Linked DNA regions of Homo sapiens. The protein of the gene in region 1 purifies or fractionates together with the protein of each later gene. This does not show direct contact. Each region holds a gene or a part of one and is shown on either strand. Other genes may lie near its edges. The genes, in order: SPRR2D and SFMBT1.

The links.
Region 2: the proteins of SPRR2D (region 1) and SFMBT1 purify together in Homo sapiens (affinity purification with mass spectrometry; one large-scale study listed by BioGRID and IntAct). This does not show direct contact.

Annotation. Positions count from the first base shown.
Region 1 is NC_000001.11:153,039,157-153,042,722, reverse strand, and holds SPRR2D (small proline-rich protein 2D), read left to right. Parts: upstream 1-1,602; 5' UTR 1,603-1,645; exon of another isoform or gene 1,646-1,651; intron 1,652-2,357; 5' UTR 2,358-2,376; coding exon 2,377-2,595; 3' UTR 2,596-2,991; downstream 2,992-3,566. UniProt on the Homo sapiens protein: Cross-linked envelope protein of keratinocytes. It is a keratinocyte protein that first appears in the cell cytosol, but ultimately becomes cross-linked to membrane proteins by transglutaminase.
Region 2 is NC_000003.12:53,039,461-53,043,285, reverse strand, and holds part of SFMBT1 (scm-like with four MBT domains protein 1), read left to right. Parts: intron 1-3,825. UniProt on the Homo sapiens protein: Histone-binding protein, which is part of various corepressor complexes. Mediates the recruitment of corepressor complexes to target genes, followed by chromatin compaction and repression of transcription.

The DNA.
Region 1 (3,566 bases):
TCTATTTCTGTAGTGTCCTGGCCAGTGGTGATCTTGGCTAAAAGCTCTTCCTTACTGACAGGAGCAACAGCTGTTCTGGGAACCTAACCTACTTAACTGAGGGATGTGATGCTGGCTTGATTCAACACTCTGCCCTTCCTGGAGCACAGTTGGTGACTGCTCCAGTGATTTTGAGTCTTTCCTCTTCCTCATTCTCCTTTCTTCTTATTCACTTATAAAACCATGTTCTTGGGAAGCTTCCCGATTAATGGTCCAGATAAGGAAGCAGTAGCAACATCACTTTAAATGTTTAATATACAGTACTTAGAAAGGCTCACTGATTGTAGGAAGCATTTAAAAAAGTTGTGAAAGGACAATCACTAAATGCATTGACAACATATGTGTTAAGTGAACAATATGTACCAAAATGGACAGATGACAGGTATACATTGGGTATGAGTTGATAATCTAGCAGTTTGTGGGACTAGAAGGTTTATGGAAAAGACAAAGGAAGAACATGCAAACAAATTAAAAAACACTGAGAAACATCTAAAACCTGTTTGGAAATAGAGAGGAAGAATACATATTGGATTACCCTTTGTTTGTATTTTCCCCTTGAGTTAAACTTTAAGTGCTCTTACCTTCCTCACTCTGCACACCTACTTCTAATTATTTACATATGATAATGTCTATGCAGCTTGTTCTCTATAGGATGTTCACAGGGAACCATATATGCATGGTTCCATACATAGATTTTGAGTCAATACTTGTAACTTTAGTTTCCTTCTCTCCATTACTTTTTATAAATAAAAAGGCTGTAGTACACATCCTTGATGGCACCAAGTAGCAAACGTGCTGTGGAGACTAGATCTCACTCTCAAATCTGTCCTGGGATGCAAGTGCCTCTACGAATGTGGTGCAGAAGCTACAAATGTGGTGCAGAAGACAGCTTCAAAGAGGAAAGGAATATAGGTAAAAATCTGAGGTTTTATCTGAGAAAAAGGTGGCAAAGAAAATTTCAGTCTTGAACAGGGTCAGCAGATAGCACAATGTGGTCAGCCTGCAAACCCAGAGGTAAGTATTATTGTCCCCTGTTTATAATCCCAGGGAGGAGAGGTGACATGCCTGTTGTCATGGAACTTAGCAAAGAAAAAGCTTAGCTCAGGCCTTTGTTAAGTCTCTCCTTCCTTCTAGCACATTGGCCAACTGTATGAGGAAAGTAGAGGTAGAGTTGGGTTCATGTACAACAATATGGCATTCAGCTAGAGTGGATCAGGACAGGAAGTTTTATGACTCAGGGGAGGTAAGATAGGAAGGGATCATTGTTCCCAATCAAGAAAGAGAGCCCTTGACAACCGGTTAGAGAATCCCTCCAATTATCTCTCTGACGAAAGTCACTGAAACTGAGATCTAAGGCAGGTTCTCTGTGACTCATGAGCACTTAACCCAGTGGGGAGATCCCAGAACAGGATATTTCCTAGTTTGAGAATGCCTCTCATGCCAGATATGGATACATTTGCATTTTACTTTGGACATTGCTGGACCAGCCCAGTTTTAGGCAGTTCCACTTCCCACTGGGTGGGGCAGAACGTCCTATAAAGAGGTTCCCTGCTGCACAACTCTTAAACTCCTGGTACTCTAGCACCGATCTGCTTTGGAGAACCTGGTGAGTGTGAGTCCTTGAGTTCCTCAGTTCTTTGTGACCTGAAATATTGAATTTAATCTGAAAACAGCAAGTTTGGTTGATACAATTCTGTAACCATGGGTTTGATTCTACTTAGTAGATGGAAATTTAGATTTAGAGTACAGTGATATGCTATTTTAGCTTGTTTCTTGTATACAGTTAGGTGTCCATACGGACAGAGAAGTTAATAGGAAAGCTTTGAATTGAAGAAGAAAAAAGAACAAAGTATTTTTTCCCCATGTTTTCCTGGTGTCTTTTTCAAAGGTTTGTGTCTTAACAGGTGCCAAGAGCCTGCAATCCTTCCCAAACAGCCCTTTGTTCTGTGCTCAAGTCAACCCACTGGGACTTTACTACAGATAATGATAAGAGAAATGGCTTGTGAGATTGCTCATGGTATCTGAACTTGTCACTGCCTTTCCTAAAGATGTTATTTTCACAGAAATAACATGCTTGGTTCATTACTACAGAGATATTTTCTTTGGAAAAATTGTATGAGAAAACACAAGATTTCCCAGGGCCAATGAAGCAATTTGCTAAAGTGGAAGGGAGAAACGAAGTAGTCTTGAAAAGGCAGTTAAGAGTTTAAATAATTTCTTGGAGATGGGGAAATAATATTTCATGGTATTACATAAGCATTAGCTTCTCTCTCTGGAGGAGTCCCTTCCCACAAACACTGTTGTATCATTTCTTTCAGATCCTGAGACTCCAGCAGGATGTCTTATCAACAGCAGCAGTGCAAGCAGCCCTGCCAGCCACCTCCTGTGTGCCCCACGCCAAAGTGCCCAGAGCCATGTCCACCCCCGAAGTGCCCTGAGCCCTGCCCATCACCAAAGTGTCCACAGCCCTGCCCACCTCAGCAGTGCCAGCAGAAATATCCTCCTGTGACACCTTCCCCACCCTGCCAGCCAAAGTGTCCACCCAAGAGCAAGTAACAGCTTCAGGATTCATCAGGAGCATGAGAGGATAAGGATAATTGGCTCACCTCGTTCCACAGCTCCACTTGCATCTTCTCACCAAAGCCTTCCATGGATGCACAGGGAGCTTCTTTCTCCTTAACCTGTGGCCTGCCTGTGATGATCTGTGACAGCAAAAGATTCCCTTTCTGAGGCTGCCATACTGCCACTGTCCAGGTGGAGCTAAGAAAAGGAAGTCCTCAGCTGTGCCAGCTCCCAGAGCTTCGGAAGAAAGAGCAGCAGCTCTCTCCCTGGGAACCATCAGACAATTCTGTTGATGTGTTCTGTGTCTGTCTGTCACCTGGTCATGAGCTTCTACCACCTTTGCAATTGTCATTTATCTTTCACTCCCTGAATAAAGTATCTATGCATATATATTTGTGAATGGATCTTTTGTTTCTTTTAGAATCTGCTTTATTAGTAATATTATATGATTATTTGGATTTTGTTCTACCTTTCTCTGATCCCCAGGACCAGGATTTCACAATTATTGTTATCTGAATTTTGGGCCATAACAATGATTATTTTTATATCATTTTAAACCCCTTTTATTTTCCTTAATTAGTGTTTGATTGATTTGAAGAACAAATCAATCAGAATTTTAATCTCTTCATTTTAAAATGTGGAAAATAATATTTATATCACTAACTTATCTTAGGCATAAAATGGAATTAATATCAGGAATTCAGTTGACACAATTTCTGACATATCATTACTACTCATTTGATAGTAGTCTATTAGCAGCAGTACATCATCATTAAAACAGAACTATTATTTGACCCAGCAGTCTCACTATTGGGTATATACCCAAAGGAATATAAATCATTCTACCATAAAGACACATGCATGTGTATATTTATCGCAGCCGTGTTCACTATAGCAAAGGCATAGAATCAACCCAAAAGCCCATCAATAGTAGAGTGGATTTTAAAAATGTGATAAATATACGC
Region 2 (3,825 bases), on another chromosome or scaffold:
ACCTTTTTTTTTTTATTAACCCTCTTTCTAGGAAGGTGGACTTTTAAATATTCTCCACTGAAGCAAATGCTGCAACAATTTGCATTTCCTTCACCAATGTCGTCTTGTGCCTTTTCTTGTTCCTACTGTAAAGGAGATGGGTTAGATGTTGTAAGTGAATTCTTATTTTGTTAGTTCCTAACAAAGGCTTGTGTTTTTTACTGCAAAGATATCTGTGTGATAAAAGTTGGGAATGTTCTAAGGCCTGTGGTGTAGGGATCCATGGGGAATAGTCCACAAAGTTAAAAGGTTTTCTTTTGTGAAATGATTTCGCTGAATAATTCTGTCTTTCCCGTGTTAAGCTAGCCAGCCAACTGACTGACCAGCAACTAAGCTGGATTTGGTCACTCCACCCAAGATTCACAGCCTCATTAGCCAAGAGAGTAATTGATGACTTAGCTATTATTGATACATTGTTTCTTTTTGTGGCTCTTTTTAAATTTCTTGACTTTTATGTGATCAGATTGTTTAATTTAAAATCTATTACATTTTTAAGAGAAGCAACTAAAGAGATACACGAGAAACAAAATACACAATGAAAGGGAATTTCCTTTTTTTGCTGTTTTGTTGTAAACTCAGATTTTTCCTTTTAAAAATGATTGCTGGCTAGGCACAGTGGCTCACGCCTATAATCCCAGCACTTTGGGAGGCTAGGCAAGAGGATCGCTTGAGACCAGGAGTTCGAGGCCAGCCTGGATGAAAGAAAAGGGAGACCCTGTGTCTCCAAAAAAATAAAAAAATTAGCCAGGCGCGGTGGTGGGCACCTATAGTCCCAGCTCTTCAGGAGGCTGAGGTGGGAGGATCCTTTGAGCCCAGGAGTTCGAGGCTGCAGTGAGCTATGATTGCACTGCTGCACTCCAGCCTGGGTAACAGAGTGACACTGTCTCAAAAAACAAACCAACCAACCCAGTATGATTTGCCTATCCATAATCTTCCTGCTTCTGTAGTATACTTTTGCTTTCACAGTGATACCTAGACTGGGTTTAGCTGTGGAATGGTGGTGTAGCAGCAGGTATCATTTAACTCTAAAGTCTGTAGAAAAGATGAACTATACAAACTTCATTGGCTTTTTATTTTGGCGTCATGTTATGTTCACATTAAGTAAATAGATACAGTCCAAAAACCAAAAGGCCATTATTTAGGCAGACATTTTACATCTTTAATATTTTTAATGTTACATTTTTTCTCTTATAATTTTCCAAAATTTTGCTTTCTTGGATTATTTGGCTTATAACCAATATTTTGGAATAACATAAAATAAAAGAACTTGTAATGAGTAAATGATACAACTTCCTTATGGCAGAGTATTTTTCTTTTAGTATATAGCATTCGTTACCTAACTGGGATATTTTGTATTTGAAAATAATATTTCTGTATATACATAGTTATTAAATGGGATAAAAGTGTGTGGGGATTTTGGTTACTTGCGAGATTTTAAACCATTAGAGTTTGGGGAGTGGGATTTTGATAGGAGTCTCCCATTCTTCAGGGGATACTAACCTCATTGGAAAAGAATTTTTTTTTTTTTTTTTTTTTTTTTTTTTTTTTGAGACAGACTTTTACTCTTGTTGCCCAGGCTGGAGTGCAATGGCACGATCATGGCTCACTGCAACCTCTGCCTCCTGGGTTCAAGCAATTCTCCTGCCTCAGCCTCCCAAGTAGCTGGGATTATGGGCATGCACCACCATTCCTGGCTAATTTTGGTATTTTTAGTAAAGATGGGGTTTCACCATGTTGGTCAGGCTAGTCTTGAACTCCTGATCTCAGGTGATCCACCCTCCTTGGCCTCCCAAAGTGCTGGGATTACAGGCATGAGCCCCCGCGCCTCGCGGAAAATGATTTAAAATAGAAAGAATGTGGTCAGGTTGTTGCAGATTCATGTTTAAACTTTTCAAAAGGGGGAGGAAGGATAAGAACACTGACACATTATTAATAGAAAAATCATATGACTTCACTGCATAAGTCTTAATGATTTGATTGTAAACCTTTTCCTCTAACTCAGAGACACCTGAAAACGTGTATGTAATTATTCTTTCTTTTATTCAAGAGGATGTTTATAACCTTATTTAGTTCTCTTTTGTCTTCAGGCAGTCACTCAAGGAATTTATTTAAAAACAAAAAATAGGCCGGGCGCAGTGACTTACACCTGTAATCCCAGCATTTTGGGAGACCAAGGCAGGCAGATCTCTGGAGTCCAGGAGTTTGATACCAGCCTGGACAACATAGGGAAGCCCTGTCTCTACAAAAAAAAAAAAAAAAAAAAAAAAAAAAAAAAAAATTCAGGTGTCTTGGTGCATGCCTGTAGTCTCAGCTACTCGGGAGGCTGAGGCAGGTATATCTCTTGAGCCAGGGAGACAGACGTTGCAGTGGGCTGTGATCACACCCCTTCAGCCTGGTGACATAGCGAGACCCTGTCTCAAAAAAATAAATAAAAACAAAAAAAAAAGTAGTCTGTATATTGTGTGTTAAATGATGTGTTAAGTACCTGTTGAACTCTGTGGTTTGAACAGTTGAGTAACTTCAGTGAGCCAAGCATGTCACTATGCAGAGAGAGGCTATAAGGTGATATTTCCAACATGATGCACAGTACTGTGTGCATTGGGTCTTTTTTTTTTTTTTTAACTGGCATACTGGTCTGGTGCATTGGTTCTTTTTTGATGTTTTTGCTTAGTCTAGAGAAAGGTTAATTATTAAACTGATGTGGGGCAGATAGGGTTGTTAAGTGTCAGTATCTGTTTATCTGGGAAACTTGGGTTCTGTCTGAGATGGTATTTGGAGAGGATCTTAGATGAGAGTTGGAAGGTGGTTTGTTGGCAGTTGAAAGTGTGGGACAGTCACACATTTGGAATGACAACATGAGCTGGGATGAGAAATTTAGCAATTACTAAAATGCCTCAGGAGTTTTTCTTGCTGATATTCAATTTAAAGTGTTAGCCAACAAGTACTCAGATTTGAATTCCAAATTATTATTTTTTATACCCTGAAGAGTTTTTAAAAAAGCATTTGAGGTGGCTACTATGGAATATTTGCTCAGTAGTAAGGCTGCCCATGGGCTGCCACTGGTTCTTCATTTCTGTTCACATTAATTTGCTCCCCAGACTAGAGTGCTTTCCTGTCTCTCAGTTTTTTCTAGTGTTCTTTCTTAAGGATCGGTTCTTCTAAAATATGCTTTTTCTGTGTTAAAAATAGTATATGGTAATTTTGAATTGTAACTTTAAGATACCTTTTGGTCTCATTTTGACTTGCGTCATAAAATAACCCTCTTGGAGTGGTTAGATGGTGATCACACCAATGCACTTAGCATATTGCCTGTCTAGAACATAGTGATATATAATGAGGATATAAATTTTTATTATTAAAAATGTTTATATGTAACAAACCTGCGCATCCTGCACATGTATCCTGGAACTTAAATGAAATCAAATAAAAAAAAAGTATACCAAAATTAGCCAGGTGTGGTGGCGGACACCTGTAGTCCCAGCTGCTTGGGAAGCTGAGGCAGGAGAATTGCTTGAACCCAGGAGGTGGGGGTTGCAGTGAGCTGAGATGACATCACTGCACTCCAGCTTGGGCAACAGAGAGAGACTCTGTAAACGTATGGTTGTGGTAAGTTATATACATATAGCATGAATTGTACCATTTTAACCACTTTTACACGTACAGGTCAGTGGCATTAAGTACATTGACATTGTTGTGTAACCATTACCACCATCCATCTCTAGAACTTTTTTAATCTTCCCAGACTGGAACTCTGTACCCATGAAACAGGGATTCCCCAACTCCCCT